Linked DNA regions of Homo sapiens. The protein of the gene in region 4 interacts with the protein of the main gene of each other region in a pairwise test. Each region holds a gene or a part of one and is shown on either strand. Other genes may lie near its edges. The genes, in order: GNPDA2, PLEKHA3, GTF2H2 and ERRFI1.

Region 1 (7,088 bases), on a different chromosome or scaffold from region 4:
AACATGGATGGAGCTAGAAAATATGGTGCAAAGTGAAAGAAACAAGACAAAAAAAGGCCACATATGGATTCCATTTATATGAAATATCTAGAATAGGCAAATCCACAGAGAGAGGAAGTATACTAGTGGTTGCCAGGAAATCAGGTAGGGGAGGGAGAATTGGAAGTGACTGCTAACAGGTGATGAGGTCTCTTTTGATGTGGGGTGGGGGATAGAAATAGAAAAACAGAATTAGATAGTGGTGATGGTTACATATCATTGTGAGTATACTGAAAGTCACTGAACTGTATACTTTAAAAGCCTGAGTTTATAGTATGTGAATTACATCTCGATGAAAATTATGTAATAGATAACCTGAATAATCCTGTATTTATTCAGGAAATTGGATTTATAGTTAAATTTTTTCAAAAAAGAAAACTCTATGTACGTACGGCTTCTCTAGTGAATTCTATCAAGTATTTAAAGAATACATTATGTTACTATAATTCAACACAAATTATTCCAAAACATTGAAGAGGGAAATTTTCCCACTCAATTTATAAGTTTGTTATTACTATGATACTAAAACTAGACAAAGACTTCACACACAAAAAAAAACTAATAAACAAAAAAACTATGGACTGATATCCCTCATACACATAGGTGTAAAATTTTTAAACAAAATTTTAGAACATTGAACCCAACAATAAATGTATAAGAAAGACCCTGACCAAGAAAAACAATGACCAAATCTAATTTTCTCCAGCAATAAAAGTGCACTCAACATTGAATTCACCAACATATTAGAGTGGAAAACCATACAACCATTTCAATAGATACATAGAAAGTGTTTGACAAAATTCAACATCCATTGTTGATTAATAAAACAACTATCAGCTATTAGTGAAATGCCTGATACCAAGGCTGGGTAGGAAAAATACAAGGTACACTCAGAGTCGTTCCGTGTTGGAGTCTTCATAACATACAGTCATGCATCACTTAATTATGGGGATACATTCTGAGAAATGCATCTTCAGACGATTTCATTATAGTGTGAATGTTATACAGTATATGCACACAAACCTAGCATATATACACAAACTACACATATATGGTATAGCCTATTGCTCCTAGACTACAAACCTGTACAGCATATTACTGAATACGGTAAGCAATGTAACACAATGGTATATATTTGCATATCTAAACAAAGAAAAGGTATAGTAAAAAAAAAAGTATAAAAATTAAAAAATATTAACAGTACACCTGTATAGGACATTTACCATGAAAGGAGCTTGCAGGACTGGAGGGTGCTCTGGGTAAGTCAGTGAATGAGTGGTGAGTGAATGTGAAGACCTAGGACATTACTGTACACTACTGTAGATTTTATAAACAATGTAGAGTTAGGCTACACTAAATTTATAAAACGATGTTTTTTTTCTTCAATAGTAAATTTAATTTCCTGTAGCTTTCTTACTTTATATTTAAATTTTTAAAAAACTTTTTGGCCGGGAGTGGTGGCTCACGCCTGTAATCCCAGCACTATAGGAGGCTGAGGAGGGGGGACCATGGGGTCCGGAGATCGAGACCATCCTGGCTAACACAGTGAAACCCCGTCTCTACTAAAAACACAAAAAATTAGCCGGGTGTGGTGGCATGCGCCTGTAGTCCCAGCTACTCGGGAGGCCGAGGCAGGAGAATTGCTTGAATCTGGGAGGTAGAGTTTGCAGTCAGCCAAGATTGCGACACTGCATTCCAGCCTGGACAACAGAGTGAGACTCTGTCTCAGAAAAAAAAAAAACTTTTTGACTCTAGTAACAACGTTAAGGTTAAAACACACATTGGAGAGCTGTCCAAAAATATTTTGTTTCTTTATATCCTTATTCTATAAGTTTTTTTATTTTAAAATCTATTTTTAATTTTTTTCCTATTCAAATTTTTTTGTTAAAATGAAGACACAAACACACATGTTAGCCTAGGCCTACACAAGGTCAGGATTATCAATCTCCCTGTCTTTCACTTTCACATCTTATCCCACTGGAAGTTCATCAGGGCAATAATGCACATGGAGCTCTCATCTATAATAACAATGCCTTCTTCTGGAATACCTCCTGAAAGACCTCCTTGAGGCTGTTTTATAGTTAACTTTTAAAAATATAAATAGGGCCAAGCATGGTGGCTCACGCCTATAATCCCAGCACTTTGGGAGGCCGAGGCAGGCAGATCACGAGGTCAGGAGTTCGAGACCAGCGTGGCTAATAAGTGAAACCCCGTCTCTACTAAAAATAAAACAAAATTAGACGGGCGTGGTGGCAGCTGCCTGTAATCCCAGCTACTCAGGAGGCTGAGGCAGGAGAATTGCTTGAACTCAGGAGGCAGAGGTTGCAGTGAGCCAAGATTGTGCCATTGCACTCCAGCCTGGGTGACAGTGCGAGACTCTGTCTCAAAAAAATAAACAAATAAATAAAAATAAAAATAGAAATAGAATGAATACACTCTAAAATAATGATAAAGAGTATAATATAGCAAATACATATACCAGTAACATAGTCATTTATTATCAAGTATTATATCCTGTACATAATTGTATGTGCTAGACTTTTATGAGACTGGAAGCACAGTAGGTTTACACCTATGTAGCCACAAACACGAGTGGTGTTGCTCTACAACTTTACGTTTACTACAATGTCGCTAGGTGATAGGAATTTTTCAGTTCTGTTATAATCTTATGGGACCATTGCCAAATATCCAGTCCATTCTTTACCTAAACTTCCTTATGTGGCACATATCTGTAATTCAAGACTGTAATTCAGTCTCCACCTTTCTACAGCATTCTTTCTAAAACACGTATGTTCTAGTCTCTTATCTTCAATTCATAAAGCTTAAGTGACTCCCTATTGCCTACAATACAAAGCCTAAATTCTATGCATAGCCTACAAACTACTTCATCATTTTACCTCAATCTTTTTTGGAGAGACAGGGTCTTGCTATGTTGCCCAGGCTGGTCTCCAACTCCTGGGTTCAAGCCATCCATGCACCATGACCTCTGAAAGTGCTGGGATTACAGGCGTGAGTCACCGAATCTGGCCAAAAATCGCTTTTGCAAACTTACTGAAGGCGATAGTACTAATAAACCTGTCTATTATCAGTATGTGAGCAATGTTGCTGTTTGAAGCTAAATCAACGAGAATGTAACATCCTACTCTTCACTAAAGGATGCAAGAGGAGTCATTACATTCAAAGAAGCAGGCTGGATTTACAACCCAGGTGAAAAACTTCATATAACGAGTTTGAGGACACAGCGTTTTACATTTTTTTAACTTGTAGTTTCCACAGAAACAGAACCTTAAGTTGGCTAGGAGTCAAGATTGTATTGTTCCTAACAGAACCCTAAACGGTGTTATTAATGGAACAGTGTTCCTGATGGAACATGGTGAAGACACAACACACTTTTCTCCTTTTGAATGATAGCTGCTTTCTTTACAATAATTTCCACAGCCCAATTCCTTCCCACTCCTGTATAAACATCTGTGATACCCAGCTCAAAGCTGATTCCAGCTTCCCCTATCCCTTTCTTAGACTCATTCAGCAAAAGCCAGTACCCTATTATATAGTGTTTTCTCTTACTGAGACGCTCCCGATTTCCCATGGTACTGTTTGCCCTTTTGCAAACTTTGATGAGTTTTTTGACACAAGACGCTTATCTGTCATTGCGTTTGCAAATATGCATTCAATAGCTTGGAGTAGAGAGAGAAATGTATTCATAAATGGCAAATATATTCATGTTGCCAAACAGCAACATAAGCAACAAAGTACGTGTGAGCACTACGGTCTTACATACTAAATCTCATAAGCCTAAAGAATCTACTGCAAATCCCTCTTTGAAAGATGGGGGGGAGGGGAAAGTAGCGTAAAGTGATGACCCAGAAACTGCGATCTTCCAGGCAAGAAGAGCGCCCAGCCGCACCGCACTCGGACCGAACTCCTCGCGTCTCACCTCAGGCGTCCTAAAGGCGGTGCGCATGCGCAGCGCCCGCCAGCCACGCCGCGGTTCCTTCCTGCGCCTTTATCTGCATCCGGGTCCGTGGGATTCGCGCTCCACTGGTCAGCTGGGGTCGCTCTCGGGTGGTTGGGTGTTGCTTGTTCCCGCTGTTCCAGCATCGAAGAACCATTGGGTCTGCCGGTAAGTTTAGCGGGGGGTGCGGCGGGGGCGCCAAGAAGGGGACTCGGGTCGGGGGACCCGACGGCAACTTCGCCCTGTGCGGCCTTTGTGCTGAGACTGGGACGCCGGGCCGGGGCGGAATGGGTGCTCAGGAACCTCGAGGCTGGGGGCGCGTGGGGTCTCCCGTATTGCCACTCGCGGACCTGGTTGTCCTCTCCGGATTTGTGCCTACGGGAGAAGGCGTCCCTGCCCTCTCCTCTCTCGCGGCTTCTTCTTGACACCTCTCTCTACACTCGTTAAAAATTCCTAACAGTCATCCTCATTTGCATTCGCTGTCCTTTGCCAAGTGAGGGCCAGGCAAACGCGCAGCTGAGGGGAATCTGCAGCCCCCGCCTCCCGGGCAGGAACCACAGCCTTCTTTGCTGTCTCTCGTCCCTCCTCGGGTCGGTCCCACACGCGCGGCCAGGCCACCCTTACGCTTTCAGGACAGGTCAGGTTGAGTAGGGAAAAGCTCAGAGCAGAGGTTCTGCAAGTGTAGATTCTGGTCTTGGCCCCGCCATTAACTAGCTGTGTAACTTCACGGGTGTAGAAGTTGTCATCCACCATTGAAGTTTTGCGATTTATATTCAGCAGCCCTTTTTCCTAGCGATGCACATCCAAAATGAATCAGCACCTGAAGGAAGACGAGGGAAAGGGTGGTGCTCTGTTGTTTTTTGATGCTGTCTTGTGATGCCAGAGAATTGCATAAGGCGACAATAGTTTGGATCTCTGAGGATTGGCAAAAACTGGAAAAGTCAAATCTTAAAAACTTAAATGTGGTGAAGAAATTCTTCTTTGCTCTGGGTGAAGGGATTCATTTGGGACTTTTGGAGGTGACTCTGCGCCCTCCAGAGAGTTTAAGAAAACAAAAAGTTGCCTGTACCTTGGTCTGAGAGACTTGCTTAAACTTCGTTTCAGTGAGATGTGTGGTGTTCTTAACAAATTTCACCTGATTATGAATATCCCCTGTGATAATTTGCAAAAGCAGAGATTCCTTGGACTTCATTTCAGATCTTTTGAAACACTGTGTCTAGGGAGAGGGACCTGAGAATCTGTATTTTTAACTAGCATCGTAAGTGATTCTCAACCGGTAAGACATCTTTGGCTAATGTCTCTTTGAGTCAGAAACACTTAGTTTTAAAGCCAGCTCCCCGGGCCACTTTTTAACGTCAGCAATAAACTTCTCGTAGTTGCAGTTTTCTGTATATGAAGAGTGAGAATAATGCTTTCAACCTCAGAGACAAGTGATTCTAAGCCCTTTGACAATAGAGTTAATCATTTTTGTGTCTACAGAACCTAGCATAGTGCTTAGAATATAATAGGTCTTCAAACGTGTGTTGAACTGAGAAAAATAACATGCCCAGGATGCAGAAGACATTGGAAAGCTCTAATGCTTCTCGTCCTCCTTACCTTATTTTTTTTCCGTTTTATTAACAATCAGCTGGCCATATATTCTTGTTAGAAGTAAATATATCTTTTGATGTTCATTACAGCCAATAATTCTTTCTGATTCTTTGGTTTAACTCTAAAATTGTTTTTGACATTAGATTATGGATTATATTTAAGTGGAGGCTGAGTCCAGTTGTTGGACTGAATTTATGACTTACTATGTAATTTATTTTCTGTAAATAAATAATTGTTATCGGGCCAGAATTCTAGATCATGGTGACCATGATTTTTTGTTGTTGTGTCAGAATTCGAAACTGTTACCTTCTTAAAGACATTTAGATTCCATACATTTATTTTAATAAGACCTTTTAATCTCATTAATTTAGAAAATTTGACTTATTACTCTATGTAAAGTGTGTGGGTACAAAACTCAGGAATGCTGAAACCATGTTATAAAAAGCTTGGTATTGGTGACTGATCCATTTAATATAAAAATAAGAATTAAAAATCTAAGAATTATGGGAATTATTACAGAATGTTCAGTAAATGTTATAAGGGGACGTTTATAAACTATTGATGGTAATGTCAGTTCAACTTCTGTAGAAAAAAGTATGAAGATTTCTCAAAGAACTGAAAATAGAACTACCATTTGATCAGGCAATCTCACTACTGGGTATCTACCCGAAGGAAAATAATTCATTATATCAAAAAGATACCCGCATTCATTTTTATCTCAGCACTATTCACAGTGAGGCAGTAGAATAGGGTCTGGAGGCAGAGGACTTAAGGCCAATTCGTGCTGACTTCCTAAAGCTAAATCAAAGGAAAACACCAAGGTCTGGGGGCAGGAAATCTAAGGCCAATTTGTGCTGACTTCCTAAAAGAGAAAACACCTGCGTCTGGGGGCAGGTAACCTAAAGCCAGTTAACCAATTAACGCAAACTTCCTAAAGCTAGACCAAAAGGAAAAAACCCATCTCCCCATGCCCAAGTAGCAAAGGACCAAAGGCTACTCTCCCTACGATCGACTGCCTTCCACCACCTCTCAGATGGAAGGGGAAAGTGCCTTGGATTGTCCGTGGACTAAGCATGGGCCATCCCTTCATCTGCATAGGGAGCCAATTCACCTCAGCCTTTAATTAGCCACGGACCAAATCCTTCATGCAGATAAGGGGTAACCGATAAGGGACCTCAAAAGGAGTATTAAAACCCAGAAAACTTTGTAACCGGACCCTTGAGCCGCTTGCTTGGGCCCACTCCCACCCCATGGGGTGCTTTCTTGCTTCAGTATCCCTGCTTTCGCTGCTTCATTCCTGTGTTTCGTTCCTTTTGTGCAGTTCTTTGTTCAAAATGCCAAGGAACTGGACACCTCACACTCATGACCTTCCTTCCAATAACAACAGTAGCAAAGATAAGAAATCAACCTGAGTGTCCATCAGTGAATGATTGGATAAAGAAAATGTGGTATATATATACACCGCGAAATTCAGCCATTGAAAATGAAATCATGTCCTTTGCAG
Region 2 (5,540 bases), on a different chromosome or scaffold from region 4:
GGCTCAAGCAATCCCCACATCTCAGCCTCCCGAGTAGCTGGAACTACAGGCAAGCAACACCACGTCCACGTCCAGCTCTTTTTTTTTTTTTTTTTTTTTTTTGGAGACATGAGGTTTCACTATGTTGCCCAGGCTGGTTTTGAACTCCTGAGCTCAAGCAATCCGCCCAACTCTGCCTCCCAAAGTGCTGGGATTACAGATGTGAATCACTGTGCCTGGCTGCACCCTGGGGGTTTGTAATGTGCAGCCAAGATGGAGAACTCCTGATCTAAACAAATAAGGTGATGCACTGTATGCTTTCGTTTAAAGGTTAGCTATCATCACTACTATCTTTTCTCACATCACAGCACTAATCTTAAAATAGCCAACCAGCTTTTAAATTTAAATGTGCAGCAAACCAGTCACGTTTTTAAAAAGCAAAGTGTTACGCTTCCTCAAACTTTCAAAACATGCTGTATTTAAGTTTTTCTCAGTGGCATGGCAAATTTATTAAACATTTTCCCCCACACTGTTCACATCACTCAGGTTTTATTGAATTTATAAAATTACTACAATATTTTCGACAAGCAGAATTTTTATGACAAAAATATAGAGTATACACCTTTTGGAATTTGGAAAAGAAAAAAATACTCACAAAATAAGTATACATATATTTTTAAATGAAGTTTATTTTCCCCTGGGAATAGAAATTCTATTCTGAAACTTTTTCAAAATTAAAGTGTTTAGTTATAGCAATCAAAATCTGTATTTGCTATTAGGTTTCTAAGTTAATTTAGAGACTAGCTTTTTAAACCAATTCCATTATTTCCAATTTCTTAACTTCTAAACTTACAAATTTTTCACTTAAATACCCATAACTACTTTTGCAAGAATCATTTTATGTATATATATGTATGTATATATATATATGTATGTGTATATACACATATATAAGCTATATATACATCTTATAACTAGCTACAATAAAGACATTTAAAAGGCCAAAAAAATTCATGTGCTTATGTTTCTAACAATATTTAAACACGCAAAGAAAAGACTATTTTAACAGCAATTATGCTACTTTCTAATGCTTGCTTATTTATGTTTAGGTTAAAACAATAGTTAGGGTGCAAATGTGAATGATAAATACTATTCAACTAGTTAACTGAAAAAAAGTGAAAATTTTGGAAAGCCAATTATAATTAAGATAGTCATTGTATCTAAGATATTAAATAATAAAGCAGTGAGTTTTAAATTCACTCAAGAATTAGAAAGCAAAAAAATTACAAAAAAATAATTAGAAAGCAAAGATAAATACTAGCAACATAACACTTAGTGAGTGGTCAATGAATATTAACTGAAGAAATTTTTTAAAAGAGGTAAATAAATGTATAAACAATCCTAAATTAAATGGTTAACAGACCCCCTGAACTCACCGCCATTCCCAAGTGATTATTTTCTTTTCTGAAATAATATACCTAATATAGAAATAGTAAGAAGGCCATTTTGGGGAACTCTATAATCATCTATCAAAACTGGAGAAAAAGATAAAGTGAATAAAATTTTAAAAAGGTAGACAGAATGAGAAAAGTTCATATGTCTTTTTTTGGCTAATTATAGACAACATTGGAAAGCTCTTAGAAATTTACTAACATTCAACCATGATTTCCATAAGAGCTCTTCAGGACAGGTAGAAAGGAAATGTTGAGAAACTACACAGAATTCTGAAAACCAGAGGGCAAGAAAACTCACACAGTGAGTCTTTCGTTTTCTCTAGAGTAAGACACTAATGGACTTGAACTATTAAAAACATCATCTAAGACTATATCCACTGCCGTCACACTCCCCCAAAAGAAAAAAAAAAAAATACCTGCAGGAGTCAAATCCCCAAAAGTGGCAAATGCCAACATACAGTAGAGGAAGCCATATGCTACAAAAAAAAAAAAAAAAAAAGAGAGAGAATGTTATAAGACCAAAAATTGGTAAGTCATCGGTATATAGCTTCCTCACTCAAGTCACCTTCAAGGACCCTGCGTGAACATGGCCTGATTCACAAAAGCAGGAAAGAAAAGTTGCAATCTGTGCCTTTTCCCCTCAAAGGTCATGGCCTAGATTAACCAAATATGGCAAGGAGAATGGAGGGCAACTCATCCCTGTAAGGAGGTTTGCCACTAAAGCAAAACCACAAATGAATTCAAACTCTTCTCTCCAGTGATGACTAAGGGTGATCAAAACACAAAAAGTGACTAAGGTAAAGCACTGATATGCTATTGAATTTCACTTACCTAAACTAGTACTTCTTAGAGAAAAAAAAAAAAAGAATATTGGCACTTTTTTTTTCCTGAGCACCATGTGACAAGGGTCTTTGAATTCATGAAGGCACTATTAATAAGTGAAGGATATACACATTACTTATACATACATATGCACTTAGCCTAAATAAAGACATGACAGGCTATGTTTGTTCCCATTTTAAAGTATATGTATGAACTTAAGAGTTCATCCTAGTTGGATAGTGAAAACAGAAAACAGGGAATCAATTTTAAGTTGTTCAACTTTGCTTATTGTGAGTAAAGATATATATAATCTAGCAAAGTTATGCAAAGTTAGAATATACCCATTGCCCTATATTCTCGATGATAGTTACCCCTGCCACCATTCCCCACACCCTCTTAGTAAGCCCATGCAGACATCATTAATCAAGTAGGTAGGTCATTCTCCGCTAATCCTAGCTGAAAAATCAAAGTCTTAAAATTAGCCACAACATCAGAGATGACACAGGAGTTAAAAAAAAAAAAAAAGGCAGTTTGCTATCCATGGTCATGATGGTAAACCACAGTAAGTGTGCGTACTTATTGCTACACACTTTTCTCTAGCCAACAACTGCAAAACAAGAAAAAAAAATCAATAATAAGCTAAATGAGAGCTGTGTTCTAAAGCCTCCCCAAGATGAGGCACCATTGCAAGAGGCTATGGACAATCACCCGAGGATGCCAATTCTGAAGGCATGCTGAATCACTTGGATAACCCAGCAACCCCTAGCGACCACAAATACCACTGGAATAGGGCATAAACAGAAATGTTCTAATACTGAAAAGATATTCATTTTATGCTCATTTACCATATAAATTTGTCAAATGAAGACTTTTAATTACATGGACATGTATATATTATCTGACAAAAATCTGGGTGGTTAACCCTTACTATCTGTAGGCCATACTTTTGATTGTTGTCAAACAAAAAAAAAAACCCACAACTCTCTATTTTGACCAAGTAGTGGTAACTTCTACAGCAAATTTGTCTCATCTTCTATAGATAAACTTTTAAAATCAATTGGAAAACTAAAATGATTCCAAGTTGCATTGTCCACAACTAAGAAACTGTGCATACAGATGCATGCACAGATAGAGACACAGGCACACACACTGTCACACTCACGCATACACAATTAAAGAAAACCACTGGAAACTCTAGGACTGTCTTTTGAAAGAAAATGGCCTCGTTCTAGCTATCCAGAAAAAAGCAATCCACAGTTCCTTGCATAGAGGAATTAAAAAGAAAATGCCTGTCCAGCCAACAATAATAGGGGTCAGAATTGTTCAACTGTCACACACAAAAAAATACTCAAGTAAAGGTCATAAAGCCAGCTCCTTCTTTAGTACCAGATGCATCATAAAAATGTGCCACTGGGGCCAGGATCCTGACACTGGGAGGCCAAGGCAGGCAGATCACAAGGTCAGGCATTCGAGACCAGCCTGACCAACACGGTAAAACCCCGTCTCTACCAAAAATACAAAAATTAGCCAGGCATGGTGGTGCTCGCCTGTAATTCCAGCTACTTGGGAGGCTGAGGCAGGAGAATCGCTTGAACCTGGAAAGCAAAGGTTGCAGTGAGCCGAGATCGCGCCATTGCACTCCAGCCTGGGCGACAGGGTGAGACTCTGTCTCAAAAAAAAAAAAGTGCCACTGTTTATTTAACCACCCTGCTATGGATGAGCTAATCCAAACTATTGCAATGTACATCTATTTAAAAGTCAATACACAGGAAAAAGGTCTGGAAGAATATATACTAGAAAAGAATGGTTACCTCTAGGGGATGGAGTGTCAAGGTGAATTTTGGTTTATTCATACTGTCTAAATGATTGCTTAATAACTCAGGTATTGCTTTCAAAAAGTAAGAGGAAGGGTGGGAAATACCCTGTTCTCTCAGAATTTTAAGTCCAGAGTGCTGGGAGAAAAAGATGGCAGCACTGAGCGGGACTGAAAAGTTTTCCTAGAACATCTCCTTTCATTACATGACTCACCATTGTTCACTCATAAAATGCTTCACCGCATCCAAAAGGAGTTCTGCCTACTAATACCAGAAAAGGTTGAGAAAGAAGAGTGTGGTTATAGCTCCTGATGGCTGATTCTATTCTCTCTCCTTTGTTCCTAATTGTCCCCATGCTGCCAGATCTGGCAATATACTTTATATTGAGATTTAAGTGAGTAAAAGTCTTTGTGCCAAACTTGCAAAAGCACAGAGATTATCAACAGCACCCTCCTCCCACCTTGCCAGAGTAAAAGTGAAGAAGGAATTCATTATAGTCATACATTTTACTCATCTTTAATATTCTGAATATATTACCCATGGAAACAACCCTTCATTTATGTCAAAAAAAATTGCTTAATGCATTAATATCCCTTTACATTAATTTATTTGGTTTATCTACAGTAACTAAGCAAAACTGAATCCACCCTGTCATATATTCTAGGTTTTGTGGATACATTCTGAATTATTTATTTATTCAACAACTAATGCTAGTCCAAAAAAATCAAGAAGCATGTGAATTTAAATACTAAATAAAGGGATAACTTAAAGGCTTAATGTTTCAGGATACAATAAGATATTCATCATTCTAATCAGTCTCATGAGTTAATCCTGGTGCTGTGCATCTTGGCTGCACTGGTAGTCCTGTACTTCCGCATCTCTGTTATAAGGCTAACATGAGGTAAAGCACCTGGCCCACAGTAAATGCTCTAAATGTTTTATTACCAAAGAGACCAACAAAAAACTTTTTGGGGAAGAGGAACATATTATGGGACAGAAAGGGCAAATTCTATCCTATGAAAATATACTAGATTAGTTACTGTATTTGGAGAAGAGGCAGCATAAGGACGCCAAAGATGGAGAGGTCAGGTCAGGCACGGTGGCTCCCGCCTGTAATCCCAGCACTTTCAGAGGCTGAGGCAGGCGGATCTCCTGAGCTTAGGAGTTTGAGACCACCCTGGCCAACATGTATTTGGAGAAGAGGCAGCATAAGGACGCCAAAGATGGAGAGGTCAGGTCGGGCACGGTGGCTCCCGCCTGTAATCCCAGCACTTTCAAAGGCTGAGGCAGGCGGATCTCCTGAGCTTAGGAGTTTGAGACCACCCTGGCCAACATGGTGAAAAATTTTTGTAAAAATACAAAACATCAGCTGGGCATGGTGGTGCGTGCCTACAGTCCCAGCTATTTGGGATGTTGAGTCACGAGAATTGCTTGAGCCCCGGAGGTGGAGGTTGCAGTGAGCCAAGATCGT
Region 3 (7,033 bases), on a different chromosome or scaffold from region 4:
CTTAACTGCAGGACCAGCAGCACCCAAACCTAGATCTCCTGGCTCTCTATCCACTTCTCTTCCTACCCTACAAAATTATTTTTAATCTCCCACTGTGTTATGGGTATAGGAAAAAAGCATACTACAATAGTGTCAGTGTGGTTTACAGCAGTGGTCTGATTGGAGGGAAAAAAAGGTGGCTTCAAGAGGCCTGTCAGAATCTCCAGAATATTTTTCATCTTTATACATGACTTCACTAACATCCATAGAAAACTGCTGGGGCCGGGCATGGTGGCTGATGCCTGTAATCCCAACACTTTGGGAGGCTGAGGTGGGTAGATCACCTGAGGTCAGGAGTTCGAGATCAGCCTGGCCAGCATGGTGAAATCCTGTCTCTACTAAAAATAAAATTAGCCAGGTGTGGCAGCGCACACCTGTAATCCCAGCTACTCGGGAGGGGGAGGCAGGAGAATCACTTGAACCCGGGAGGCGGAGGTTGCAGTGAGCCAAGACAGCACCGCCTGGGCGACAGAGTGAGAGACTCCTTCTCAAAAAAAAAAAAAAAAAAGAAGTAATAGAAAACTGCTGGTAACTCGGGGTGGGTAAAGTGAGAGGAAAATATTGACCTTATATTCCTACCTTGGAGGAACCATCCTTCTTCCACTATATAATAATCCTGCTTAGTTCATGTGGTGCTGACCCTACTTCTATCCTGCTCTGGGCATCAGCAGGCAATCGAAGCGTACAAACAAAATACTTCATTTCCTGGCCACTTTGTTCATGGATGGGCAGATCGTAACTCAGGCCAATCAGAGTTCTCCCTAGACGTGTGCTGAAGCTATAGGCTACGGGTACAATGTAGACTGGGACAATTAAGAGACATCTTTTCAACTTCCAGAAAATCTATCAGAGAATGAAGCCAGACAAAGCCAGGACCCCAACATATGCAGCAACTATATATGGAATTGGCCCACCTTTGAACATAGCCCAAAATTTTCCTTCTGCACTTAAGCTAGTGTGACATTCTTTTGGTTACTCACAACTGAGTTTCTTGAATCACTCCAGGCCAATGTACATTTCACTCCTCACTGCATTTAATGAAAAACTACTAATGAAGAAAGTATGTCATTTCCCTTATGTGTGCCGGCAAGGATAAAAGGTTGAAAACCAGATTTAAGGGAGAGTGTATTTCACAGAAAATAAAATAGAATCAGTGATGCAAATTTGTAACAGCATATATACCAAAGCAAATAAAAAATGCCATTACTACGTTTTGAAACTAAAATTCAGTTAGGTATGTCATGGAAGCAGAAAAATTGATTCATTAGCAATAGCTACAGTTTAATTTTTATACTTTTTCCCTTTTAAATTAGATGCTTAACTTTATAAGAATTTAATTTTAAGATTAACTGGATTTTATAAATGATTACAATAACTGTATTTTAATATTTTCAGGATAAGGCCGGATGCGGTGGCTCAAGCCTGTAATCCCAGCACTTTGAGAGGCTGAGGCGGGCTGATCACAAGGTCAAGAGATTGAGACCATACTGGCCAACATGGTGAAACCCCGTATCTACTAAAATACAAAAAATTAGCAGGGCGTGGTGGCGGGCATCTGTAGTTCCAGCTACTCAGGAGGCTGAGGCAGGGAATCGCTTGAACCCGTGAGGCGGACTTTGCAGTGATCCGAAATTGTGCCACTGCACTCTAGCCTGGCGACAGAGCAAGACTCCATCTCCAAAAAAAAAAAAAAAAAAAAGGAAAGAAAAAAAATTTCAGGATAAGCACATATAGATTTTAAATAAAAACATTTATATTCAATGTAGTATTATTTACCACTACGCAGAACTCAATTTAGAATAGTTAACCTTGTATCCTAAGAATATAATGGTGGGGGAGATGTTATTAAATTGTTTCACCTAGAGAAGACAGAGGAACCACCCTTCACGTTACTTATTAAGCAGCCATATAAACAGGGCTACGAGGTTGGGTAAATAAAGCAAAGTCCTTGAGTCATGTAAAGGTAATTTTATGCATACCTGAAAGTTCAGTCAATTTTTCAGCTCTTTTACTCTTAGTTACAATTATTCCAATCTTGAAATAAAAACAAAAATTATTATTAATATAACAAGTTATTTCCTCCCATTAAGAATATATATAACTATTCCTGTAGATGATATTGGAGCAGAAAAAAAAATAATTTATATAGCTAAAATAAACTAGTAATTACAAAAGAAAGAAGCAACAGGTGAGAAACTTTTTCTCATGCTGTTTTTGGCAAATAAATTTAGCTATGAGTTCACATTACGTTTAACTTTTAGAGTTATTACGCTTTTCATTTTTAAGTATACCAGAAACTGGTTAAACAATTTGGGTAATTCACAAAATACATGTCCAATTTTTAAAAATAAATTACATTTGGAAGCAAAATAGGAATCTAATTCTGAATTCTATCACTTAGATACGTACCTGACTAATAGGATTTTGATCAAAATATTCCTCTACAAAGTATTCCAACAACTGTTTAAACAAAAAAAGACATACTAGATAAAGGCAAAATAACAATCATAAAGAACACGTCCAACTGATGTTTGTGAAACCTGTTAATCAAGCATCACTTCTCATGACTTTTAAACTTACAGATTTTCAAAAACTGTTAAGTAATAAAAATATTAAACAGTAAAAACGTTAATTTGAAATGGTGGGTGATGAGATAGGTTTGAGCTAGGTTTTAAAAGATGGAACCATTTGGATGTGTCAGAAGAAATTTCAATGAGGAAAAGATCCAATGAAGAGAGATGGGAGAACGAGCAGAATTGAGAATAGGTTTTGATAAATTAGGAATACGAACATATTTGTAATCTGAGGAGACAGAGTTAAGTAAGGCAAAGGAGAATGAAGATTCAAGAAAGAAAAGGGATAACTGATAAACCAAGATCCTGATGTGGGGTGGGAGGATAGAAATTAAAAACACAAATAATTAGCTATGTTGGTTTAAAATTTCCCTAAATAACCTGGCAGTACTTCTACTTAGCTATCATTAGCATTAACTAAAAATACAAGGCAAAAAATAAAAAATATTGCATTCTTTAAAAATATCCTTTAGAATCCAGTGTTCTTCCCCACTTTTTTAGTAAAAGTTTAAGTGATTTTGGTACAAATTTAAATGATTTAGTATAAACTTAAATTTTACCTTTAAAGTACACGTCAGTCTATTAGGCTTTAAATCTTGGTCTTCCATTGTTCTTGATCCATCTACTACCACATAAAGGTGGCGCATCTATCGGAAAAAAGAAAGGGCCAATTTCAAGTACTTGTTTTGTTTTGTAGAAACTGGGTCTCGTTCTGTTGCCCAGGTTGGTCTCAAACTCCTGGGCTCAAGCAATCCTCCTGCCTTGGCCTCCCAAAGTGCTGGGATTATAGGCATGAGCCACTGTGCCCAGCCTCAAGTGCCATTTTGACTAGTAAAAATGGCATTTAATAATTACATATTCTATGCACGTATTTTTAACATATTCTTTTAAAAACTTTGTTGTTTTGCTATTGTTTTTTCTAGCAAGACAGAATGTTTCTCTAACCTAAACTAGTTCTGTACTAGTAAAAGAAAAAATAATGACATACCATTCCAAGTCGAACTTGTCCATGGTGCTCAAATACTCTGTTAAAATTATACAAACATTTTAATGTAATTCCATATACTATCCCCCCCCACAAAAAAAATACAACTTTCCAATTGACCTCCTTTGTTTTTCTTTTTTTCTAATTCTGAGTAAGAATGTCATAACGTGCATTTTTAGTGGAGTAAATAATTAACTTATGGAATACAATACACACAATTATAGGTATTGTAGACAGTCTCTAAAGACCATTTCCTGCTGGGGCAAGGGTAGGTGGCTAGTTCTTTCCCCATAGTCAGAAGGCAATAGGTCAGTTACCCTGAAACACAGCTAAAATGAAGTACTGAGGAGTATTTATAGATAGAAAGGCTTAAAATGAATATATTTTACCTTTTTAAGATACATAGGAAGGTTACATACCTTTTTCTCTTTGCCTTGAATAGAATGTCTTCTATTGTAGCTTTAAGTGATCCAGATTCATCTTCTTTAAGAATCTCCCTATAAGTCATAATTATTTGTTTGAAAAGACAAGCTAAAATGATTACTAGCCCAAATGAAATGAAAATATATGTCCACACAAAGATTTGCATGTAAGTGTTCATGGCTGCATTTTCCTAACAGTCAAAAACTGTAAAGAACCTAAATATCCACAGACTAGTGAATGGATAAACAATAATGTGGCATAACCATAGATGGGAATACTATTCAGCAATAAAAAAGGAATGAAGTATTAATACACACTGCATCATGGATGAGTCTTAAAAATAAGTGAAAGCCAGCCACAACAGACCAACTATTATAGTCATGCATCGCTTACTGACAGGGATACATTCTGAGAAATGCATTGTTAGGCAATTTCATTATTGTGTGAATATCACAGGGTATACTTACACAAACCTAGATGGTATAGCCTATCCCACGCCTAGGTTACAAACCTGTACAGCACGTTACTATACTGAATATCTTAAGACAACTGTAACACAATGGTCAGTATTTGTATATCTAAACATACATAGAAAAGGTAGAGTAAAAATACAGTATTATAATATTATGGGACCATTGTCATATATGCAGTCTGTCTTTGACCAAAACATCATTATGTGGCACATGATTGTATATGATCACATTTTTGTGAAATGTCCAGAAAAGGTTAAAATTTGGAGACAAAAAGTAGACTAATGATTGCCCACAGGTGGAATTAAATTAAGATTTAAATTAATTGTAAATGAATGTGAAGGATCTTACTGGAGTGGTTACAATATTCTAAAACTGGTTTATGATAATGGCTGCACAGCTCAGTAAATTATTAATAAAACATCACTGAATTGTACATTGGAAATGGGTGAATTTTAACATATGTAAAATATACTTTAATAAAGTTGTAAAGAAAAAAAAAGACATTGTCTAAAAGAAAAGACAGGGCAATAAAGCTCTCCTTACCATGTTCTTTCATAGCCTCCTTCCCATCGCTTAGTTCTTTCAGGTTCTTCATCCATTTTTTTCAAAACTGTATTTTATTATTCAATAATCTGTAAAAACCATTAGAATGTAAGTTATCTAAAGATGTTTGTTACAAAATTCATCCAATTAAATTTGAAAATTAGACACATATATGAAGTAAAAAAAAATGGAATGCCAGGTCATCTTATTCTTTGTATTTTACTCAATAATTGTCTTAAAAATCTTCATAGAACTCCATTTCTCATTTCCAAGAAATAATATGAACTTATACACAAACTTGGTACCAATAAAAATAAGCGTCTTTTTACGATTTGTAAAAGAACAAAAATGCTTTATAGATGTGTCACATGACAAACTGTAGACTTGTGAGGAGTCAGTATGGGCGTAGTTGAACTATTATAGCTGAGTGACATGTGATTCATTGTACTATCTCTCTGTGTATGTCTCAGTTTTCTCATAATCAAAAGTTTTTAAATCACATTTATTATTTATAAATGGGTAAATGCTATAGCTCATAATTCAAAAAAAAAGGACACAAAATTAAACATAGTTCTTTGAGACATCTCCAAACTGCTTTCCATAGTGGCTGAACTAATTTACATTCCTACCAACAGTGGATAAGCATTCCCTTTTCTTCACAACCTTGCCAACATCTGTTATTTTTTGACTTTTTAATAATATCCATTCTAACTGGTGGTGAGATGGGTTTGTGGTTTTGATTTACATTGTGGTTTTGGTTTGCATTTCTCTAATGATCAGTGATGTTGAACATTTTTTCATATATTTATTGGACACATGTATGTCGATCCAACAATCCCAATACTGGGTATAAACCCAAAGGAAAATAAAACCATTCTACCAAAAGTACAAGAGCACTCATATTAATCACAGCACTATCCAAAATAGCAAAGACATCAAATCAACTTAGATGCTCATAAATGGTGGACTGGATAAAGAAAATGTGGTACGTAATATATCATGGAATACTAGCAGCCAAAAAAACAACGAAAAAAAAACACAATGAAATCCTGTCTTTTGCAGCAACATGGATACAGCTGGAGGCCATTATCCTCATTGAATTAACACGAACAGAGGCCCAACGCAATGGCTCACGCCTGTAATCCTAGCACTTGGGAGGCCAAGGCAAGTGGATCACCTGAGGTCAGGAGTTTGAAACCAGCCTGGCCAACATGGTGAAACCCTGTCTCTACTAAAAATAGAAAAAAATTAGCCAGATGTGGTGGCGAGCACCTGTAATCCCATCTACTCAGGAGGCTGAGGCAGGAGAATTGCTTGAACCCGGAAGGCAGAGAGGTTGCAGTGAGCCGAGATCGTGCCACTGCACTCTGGCCTAAAAAAAAACAGCAACAGAAAACCAAAGACGGCATGTTCTCATTTACGAGTGGAAACTAAACACTGAGTACACGTGGACATAACGATGAGAACAACAGACATTGGAGACTATTAGACAGGGAAGGATGGGAGAGAGTGAGGGTTGAAAAACTGCCTATCAGGTACTATGTTTACTACCAGGGTGACGGGATCATTTGTATACCAAACCTCAACAACAAGCAATTTATCCATGTAACCAACATGCACACGTACTCCGTGAAAATAAAAGTTGAAAACAAAACAAAACAAACAAACACAGGCCAGGGCCAGGTGCAGCGGCTCCATCCCTGTAATCCCTGCACTTTTGAGAGGACAAGGTGCGGATCACCTGAGGTCAGGAGTTCGAGACCAGTCAGGCCAACATGGCAACACCCGTCTCTACTAAAAATACATAAATTAGTTGGGCATGGTGGCAGGTGCCTGTAATCCCAGCTACTAGGGAGGCTGAGGCAGGAGAATTCCTTGAACCTGGAGGGCAGAAGCTGCAATGAGCCAAGGTCACGCCACTTCACTCCAGCCTGGGTGACAGAGCAAGACTCCGTCTCAAAAAAAAAAAAAAAAAAAAACCAGGCCAGGTATGATGG
Region 4 (7,033 bases):
GTTCAAGGAACAAACAGTAATATATGAAGATACTAATTTCCATTATCCTGTAAAAATCAAGTTCTGCAAGATTACTGGCTTCAGTAAAAGCCTGGGACAGCTTCCTCCCTCCCTTTTAAAGACAAGTTAAAGGTACATTCTTTACATCCTCCTTTGTGAAACACCCAGTAACTCATATCTTGCTTAGCTGCAAGGCATGGATAACAAAATAAGTACATTTTTCTTAAATTAGTAGTTCCTCAACTTCAGGACCGCCAATCCCCTTTGTCAGATGTTACAGGTCTGGAGTCCCTATAGCCCCCTTTTCACTTTCCTTTTTTATTATTCGTTATGTGTTAGTCAGCATCAATCTCTGCTGTCTTCAGATAGCCAAGTTTATTTATAAGTTTAGGTTTTTTTCCTTAGGCACCAGGATATTATTTGTCAACTATTGTGTAACACTGACCCCTTTTGGGGGCACGTACATATACACTCTTTAACACGATCTCATTCTCTCACTAAATATTAGTAAGGGATCAGTGCAAATAATATCTGCACAGCTGAGTGCTGGGCACTGTGCAAAGGCTGGGCACTGTGCAAATGTGACACATTTGCTGTGGGGGAGAGGTACACAGGTTTTTTTTTTTGTTTTTTTTTTTGCTCAGCAACTTCAAATCTATTATTTACAAATCTGTCACCTCCTACTAGACTAAGCTCAGGACAGAGGCTGTGTCTCAATCACCTTTTAACAATCAGTACCTGGAACATTAGTAGGTGCTCAGTAAGTGAATGTTTGCTGAATGAATGATTGTATAATACCATCTAATTATCATAATCAGTATCAACTCAATATACACATTGTGTAAGGCACAGGGTTTTTTTTTTTAAAGCTAAAAACTTTTAAAAAATACTCTGCAAGTGTTTATTATTATTTTCCCATTAGAAAGGAACACAGTGATAAGTAATGTTCTACAGGTTCAAGATTTCAGTAACAAAGTAGAGAAGGGAGATCCAATGACTGGTTCTCTGCATTTTACCCTTCCACAGTCAGCTGTTCTACCAGGCAGAGATTTTATGATAGGGTTAAAATATTATTTCAGATAGTCAAGCATTATTTTTCTTTAAATCAATCTCTCAAATATATGATAAAGAAAACATTGTCATTTAAGAATTCTAATTGAGAGGTCTTTTGAGGATTGGTTTTTCAGATTACTTCAATGAAGCAAATGTGTTATCTACCATCAAGCTATAAAAAATTTAGAAACCAATTTAAAAATACTGCTAGCCTCTCCCTCTGTGTACTTAGCCCAGTGGTTTATCAAGCTTTTTCTAAGCATTCTACAAGCACTGGCAAGACTATGAGGAAAGTATCTGTGGTAATATAAAAATGAAAGGCAAGATAGGAAGAATATGGTATTTAAGTAGTTTGAAAGCACACGTTTGAAGATCGCTCATCCAGATTACAGGAAAATGCTGCAGGGGATTCTGCAGGCCCAACCCCCACCTGTCTGCAAGCCAACAAGTACTACTAGTAATTACTGTGTGTCAGCCTCCTAATGCCATCTAAATCTTAGCTTTCAACAGAATGATTGTGTAACTATCGCCTCTGCAGAAATTGCCTTGGAATTCTAAACTTACATTTCAATGGTCACTTAAAATTATTTATATGTTCTAGAAAAAGTTATTTTTTATTCATTGTTTCCATCACCTACTTGTTAGCTTTCTTAAGAAAAAAATTTTTTTAGTATAAAAAGAATTGTGTTCACTAAGCCAGCTCACTTCTGACCACAATAGTGTCTTTGTGTATTCATAGAAGGTGACCTGCCTCTAAATTTCAATGGGGAATTGTGAATGGGCCATGTTATGAAACTGTCCGAACTTCCTACTTGCTAGCATGGGAGACGAGGGGGGCAATATAACTGCCATGTTCTCTTCTTTTGGAAAATAACTTCAAACTGTAGACTCAAAAAGGGCAATGTGCTATAGGTTTGGAAGGAAGCTTTTAAAAAAAATGTTTCTCAGATTGTAAACTGAGGGTATGAAACCACCTGAAACTTTCTCTCTCTCTAAAAACCTTCTAGTATTCAGCACAAATGGAAGCGGGGGGCGGGGGGGGGGGGGGCGCGGAGTAAATAAATCCATTTTACCAACCTCAAGCTAAAAAGAAACAAACTCTTCCCAAGTGATGTTTAATGCCAATTTTTCACATTTTATCTGTCTTACAACTCATTAGAGGAAAACAATTGCAAAAATGTACCTATGTGGGGAAATCAGTATCTAAAAAGTACAAGATGGGATTATGTTATGGAATCCAAGAATAGGAAAGCGAATGTGAATCCAGACAGCATGGTTTAGACGGGGACCCAAATAACCTTCAGCATAACTTCTCCAAACTTCATCAACTATTTTTAGCTTTTTTAGTGGGTCTAAAATGCAGTTAAATACCAAATTTCAGATGTGAACCACCTTTTCCTGTTAACTTGATTCTTTTCTAAATTCAACGAAAAAAGAAGCCCTAAAATCATTTGCTTCTTGAGGTTATCCTTTTATTAATCCACTTGTATAGCTTCAACTCATAGACAGCTCCTGAATCAATGACTCCAGCCTGGCTCAAGCTTCAACTTTGCATTTCCTATTGTCTGGTGATTATCTTTCCACTTGGATGGCCCTCTGGCATCTCAAACTCTACAAACCAAACTCCTCCTTTCACTTCATACTCCATTCCCCACTCCCCAAACCAGTTCAGGGTCTAAGAGGATCACACTTCTCAAGGCACCATTTTTAACCTGAGGCCATGTACATTCAATTGCCAAGTTCCACAGACTACTTTTACATGGTTTCTCAAATCTTACCCTTCCATTGACAGGCATCATTCTTCCTGGGGTCTGGCAATATGCAACCTATTCTACAACACTAGTACCAAGTCAATATTCCTTAACAACAGCTCAAGCTAAGATTTGCTGCTGCTCAAAAAACCTTCAAAGGCTCCTAAATAAAACCTCCTCAGCCTGGCAATTTAGGGCCTCCACAATATAAACCTAATCTATATTTTCAAGCGCGCTTCTATTTTCCCCAAATCTCTGTTACAATTCGATTCATCCTTTAAGGTCAGCTCTACCCTGCCTTCTCCATGAAGCCGCTCCCTTTCATGAAACACTGGAGCAGCGGTGCTCTGTTCTTGTGTTATTTTGTGCTGGGCCCCAATTCCCCTTCCACTCTTCAAATCATCTAGGACAGAACTGATGTCTGATTTATGCTTTCCCCCTGTAGATCTTGGCATCATTCATGTCTATTATTTATTAAATGGATACTGAGAAAATATCCATCTCATTTTTAAAAAGTAATGACATGAAAGATTCACATACACTGTGAGTCAGTGAAGAGCTCAGGGGAGAAGCAGATTTATAAAGGATAAAGTTAATGCGTGCTGGAGTGAGGCGACTGCCCAATAATAATGTAACAACCTTAGGATATGTAACAGGAAGGAATTTTTATGAAATTCATTTCCAGAATTCAAAGAAGACAGTTTGTAGACTGAGTAAAAATTATAAGCTTCAGTGGTTAACAGTGTAGCTTTCTAAACTGGTTTCTGTTACAGTATATTTACTTGAAGCAATTGGGGGGGTACTTTCTTAAAACAGTGTTTTGCCTTCTCTTAAAACACTATTCCTTCTAGACTGTGTTTTTGCTGCTGAATTTAAGGTGACTTTCATTTTTCTAAAAAAGTTACACCAAAAGCACACTGCACCTTCTTCATTAAGGTGAAATCATATGCCTTTAGCTTGAGGACAGTCTCTTTGAAACTGCTTAAAAAAAAAAAAAAAAGAAAAATGCAGGCTACCTTAAGGCAGTAACCTAGATATGCTTACCTGGCCACCAGATCTCATTAATAAATCTCAGAAGCCATCCATGGGAGGAGGAGGGGCACATTTTTGTCATACAACTCATCCAGTTCTGCCCAGTGCTTCCTTATTTAAGAGTGTGATGTAATTTCCTCCTTTCAATCTGGTTCTAGAACCTGATTTCTGTTTATTCAGGGTGATAAATGGTCTTTTCAGTTCCATTTAAGAATCACCTACATTAAGTACTTCCATAACCAAGGAAGATAATAAGGTAACTACATTTAAAGGCAAAATTTATAAAAGGAAACTGATTTAGGAATATGACAAACTCCATGATTTTAGATCCTCCCCAAATATACCAATCTCTGCATGTTTATTTTTTAAAATGTCTAAAATAATCACCTGTGAGGAAATTAAAACAAACAAACAAACAAAAAAACACCAATTTTTTTTTTTTTTTTTTGAGACGGAGTCTTACTCTTGTCACCCAGGCTGGAGTGCAATGGTGCACAGCACAATCTCCACCTCCCAGGTTCAAGCGATTGTCCTGCCTCAGCCTCCCGAGTAGCTGGGATTACAGGCATGCACCAACTCGCCAGGCTAATTTTTGTATTTTTAGTAGAGATGGGGTTTCTCCACATTGGTCAGGCTGGTCTCAAACTCCTGACCTCAGGTGATCCTCCTGCCTCGGCCTCCCAAAGTGCTGAGATTACAGGCGTGAGATACCACGCCCGGCCCAGATTTCATTTTAATAGCCTATGATTTAGGTAGGGGTAGGAAAAGAAAGAGGGAGGCAAGTTAAGAAAACTTCCTTAGTTGTACTCTCTACCATGGTAAGCATAAGTAGCCTTTAAATTAAAAACATAGATTACTTTTAAAATAATGCCATGTTTTAATGTAATTAAAATACTCCTGCATGAATTCAAGAAAAGCTTGATGGCTTCAGTAAACATTAAAATATAGTTCAGTGTGGCAAAGATGAACATTTGTGTCTGTGTTTGCAGCTCCATTCCTCAGAGGCTCTTAAACATGTCCAGAACATAATGGACCATTTGTAGGTGGTGAAATAGAGGCAACAGAGAAAATAATTTATCTTCAAACTGTCAAATAAAAAATAAATGACGTAATTTATTCAATAATTCAGAATGCTTTCTAGCTAAGTATTTTAAAAAATGGTAAACTAACAAAAAACCCATTCCCTCAACTACCATAATCCAGTCTTTCAACTCACTTAAGCCTCCCACACAATTTTAGTGTGACAGCAGAAAAGTAGGATAGCAGGAATACATTCTTTTGTCCTTTGTATTTCTCCTACAGAGTAGCACAATCAGTAACTATATATACACACAGAGGGGAGAAAAATATTATTTCTTTTTGACATATAACAATAGATTATTTCTTACTATAAAAGTGAATTCTAATCTAAAGACAACGAGCACAATGGTCTAATGATGGGACGCAAGTCTTTAAAACTTCAAATTTATTTAACAAGCATTTAAGTTACCCGATGGGTAACTCTAGATTGTTACAATTAATATAAAACCATTAATGATAACTAACATTCACTGGACATACAACTGCCAGGCAAGCATGGTTCTAAGTGCTTTATGTGTATGAACTCATTTAATCCTCTCTACAATGCCATAAGGTGGGCTACTATTATTACTCTCACTTACTTGAGGCACAGAGTTAAAGAACTTGCTCAAGGTCAAAACTGGTGAGCAATGGGGCCAGGACTTCAACTAGACAGCCCGGCCTCAGTGTCCAGGCCCTTCACCAACACACCACACTGCCTCTTCCTGTCCCTACGGCTTTTTAAACTGGCGAAGTAGGATCCGACTGACTATACTGCTCAACTTGTAAGGGTAGCACAGATCCTTTTTTATGGATTTACTGGTAATAGTTTTTCTTGGGTAACCTGTAGCCTATGAAAGTTCCTGTTTCACTTCAACTCCCTCAAATTCTCCTATTAAAAGTTATTAATTGTAGATCTGGCCTATGTATCCTCTAAAATGGGTGGGTTAAGGCATCAATTTGACATTCTATTACCACTTCAAACAACTATTTTGAAGCCCTCAGTCTTTAACGATCCACGGATGCCCCACCACAACAGAACTCTTTACAACATGGTTATTTCATATAACACAAGTCTGTTTTTACTCGTAATAAGCGGTTACTACATATACCCAACGGGCCTCCTTTTAACATGCTTTCACAGCATGGATCCCAATGATGGCATTATAATCACACTGTATTGTAAAATCCGGAATTTAACAATAGCATACCTTATATTTGTAAAGCACTCAACAAGTTACAAAGCACCTTCTTACACATTATCTCACTTGATCCCCACAACATCCCTGTAAGAAGAGGCAGGGATTAGAATCTCCATTTTGCAGATGAGGAAACAAAGTGAGGTTAAATATCTTGCTATAAGCAAAAGGGCGATCATGGCTCTTCTGTACTATAATCCAGCATTTTCCCCACACTTTCACTACCTCTCCACTCTATAGTATCTTCATTTTAGGCAACAACCTCATTTCTCCTTGTAACATTCTTGTTTATAAATGGAGAAACTGAAGCAAAAGGCTGTTAAGTTAAATGCTCAAGACCTAAGTGCTAGTCAATAGCAGAGGCAGGAACAGAAACTCAACTCATAGTGCTCATTCAGCTCAAAAATTCTTAGAGGGCAAGGATTAATTCTTTTCACAAATATTTATCAAGTGCTTATTCTGGATTAGACACCATGTGAGGTGAAAAATAGAGATGGCTGCTGCCTGAAGAAGCCTTCCATCTAATGAGGGAGGAAGAGAATAGCCAAGCAAGCAAACAATTTTAGATGGCGATACCTTCCAAGGAAACAAGCAGGGTACAGCAGCAATAGGATAAGGAGGCAGAGGAGCATATATTTACACAGGTGGTTTGGGAAGGCCTCTCTGAGTAGGTGACTTTTAAATGGAAATCTAAAGGCTGAAAAAGAGGCAGCCCTGATAAGAGTCAGAAGACAATTCTACTGAGCGAATAGTTGTTTAAAAAACAATCTGTAACTAGTCCAGTTTCACATCTGGGGTATTGAATAAGAGCTTTTGGATAATGTCTTCCAATCCTTACCTTCCTATTGTTTCCAAGTTGAAAAGGGCTCCATTTCTGTAGCCAAAGCCCCACATTTTTTTGTTTGTTTATTTTTTAAAGACAGAGTCTCACTCTGTCAC

Evidence for each region.
Region 1: the proteins of ERRFI1 (region 4) and GNPDA2 interact in a two-hybrid assay, tested with the Homo sapiens proteins (one study listed by BioGRID).
Region 2: the proteins of ERRFI1 (region 4) and PLEKHA3 interact in a two-hybrid assay, tested with the Homo sapiens proteins (one study listed by BioGRID).
Region 3: the proteins of ERRFI1 (region 4) and GTF2H2 interact in a two-hybrid assay, tested with the Homo sapiens proteins (one study listed by BioGRID).

The regions. Positions count from the first base shown.
Region 1 is NC_000004.12:44,723,548-44,730,635, reverse strand, and holds the start of GNPDA2 (glucosamine-6-phosphate deaminase 2), read left to right. Parts: upstream 1-4,079; 5' UTR 4,080-4,162; intron 4,163-7,088. UniProt on the Homo sapiens protein: Catalyzes the reversible conversion of alpha-D-glucosamine 6-phosphate (GlcN-6P) into beta-D-fructose 6-phosphate (Fru-6P) and ammonium ion, a regulatory reaction step in de novo uridine diphosphate-N-acetyl-alpha-D-glucosamine (UDP-GlcNAc) biosynthesis via hexosamine pathway.
Region 2 is NC_000002.12:178,511,435-178,516,974, reverse strand, and holds the end of PLEKHA3 (pleckstrin homology domain-containing family A member 3), read right to left. Parts: 3' UTR 512-5,540; downstream 1-511. UniProt on the Homo sapiens protein: Plays a role in regulation of vesicular cargo transport from the trans-Golgi network (TGN) to the plasma membrane.
Region 3 is NC_000005.10:71,057,672-71,064,704, forward strand, and holds part of GTF2H2 (general transcription factor IIH subunit 2), read right to left. Parts: intron 5,126-7,033; 5' UTR 5,093-5,125; coding exon 5,037-5,092; intron 4,096-5,036; exon of another isoform or gene 4,095-4,095; coding exon 4,017-4,094; intron 3,638-4,016; coding exon 3,601-3,637; intron 3,260-3,600; coding exon 3,173-3,259; intron 2,500-3,172; coding exon 2,449-2,499; intron 2,074-2,448; coding exon 2,019-2,073; intron 1-2,018. UniProt on the Homo sapiens protein: Component of the general transcription and DNA repair factor IIH (TFIIH) core complex, which is involved in general and transcription-coupled nucleotide excision repair (NER) of damaged DNA and, when complexed to CAK, in RNA transcription by RNA polymerase II.
Region 4 is NC_000001.11:8,016,287-8,023,319, forward strand, and holds part of ERRFI1 (ERBB receptor feedback inhibitor 1), read right to left. Parts: intron 3,788-7,033; exon of another isoform or gene 1-3,787.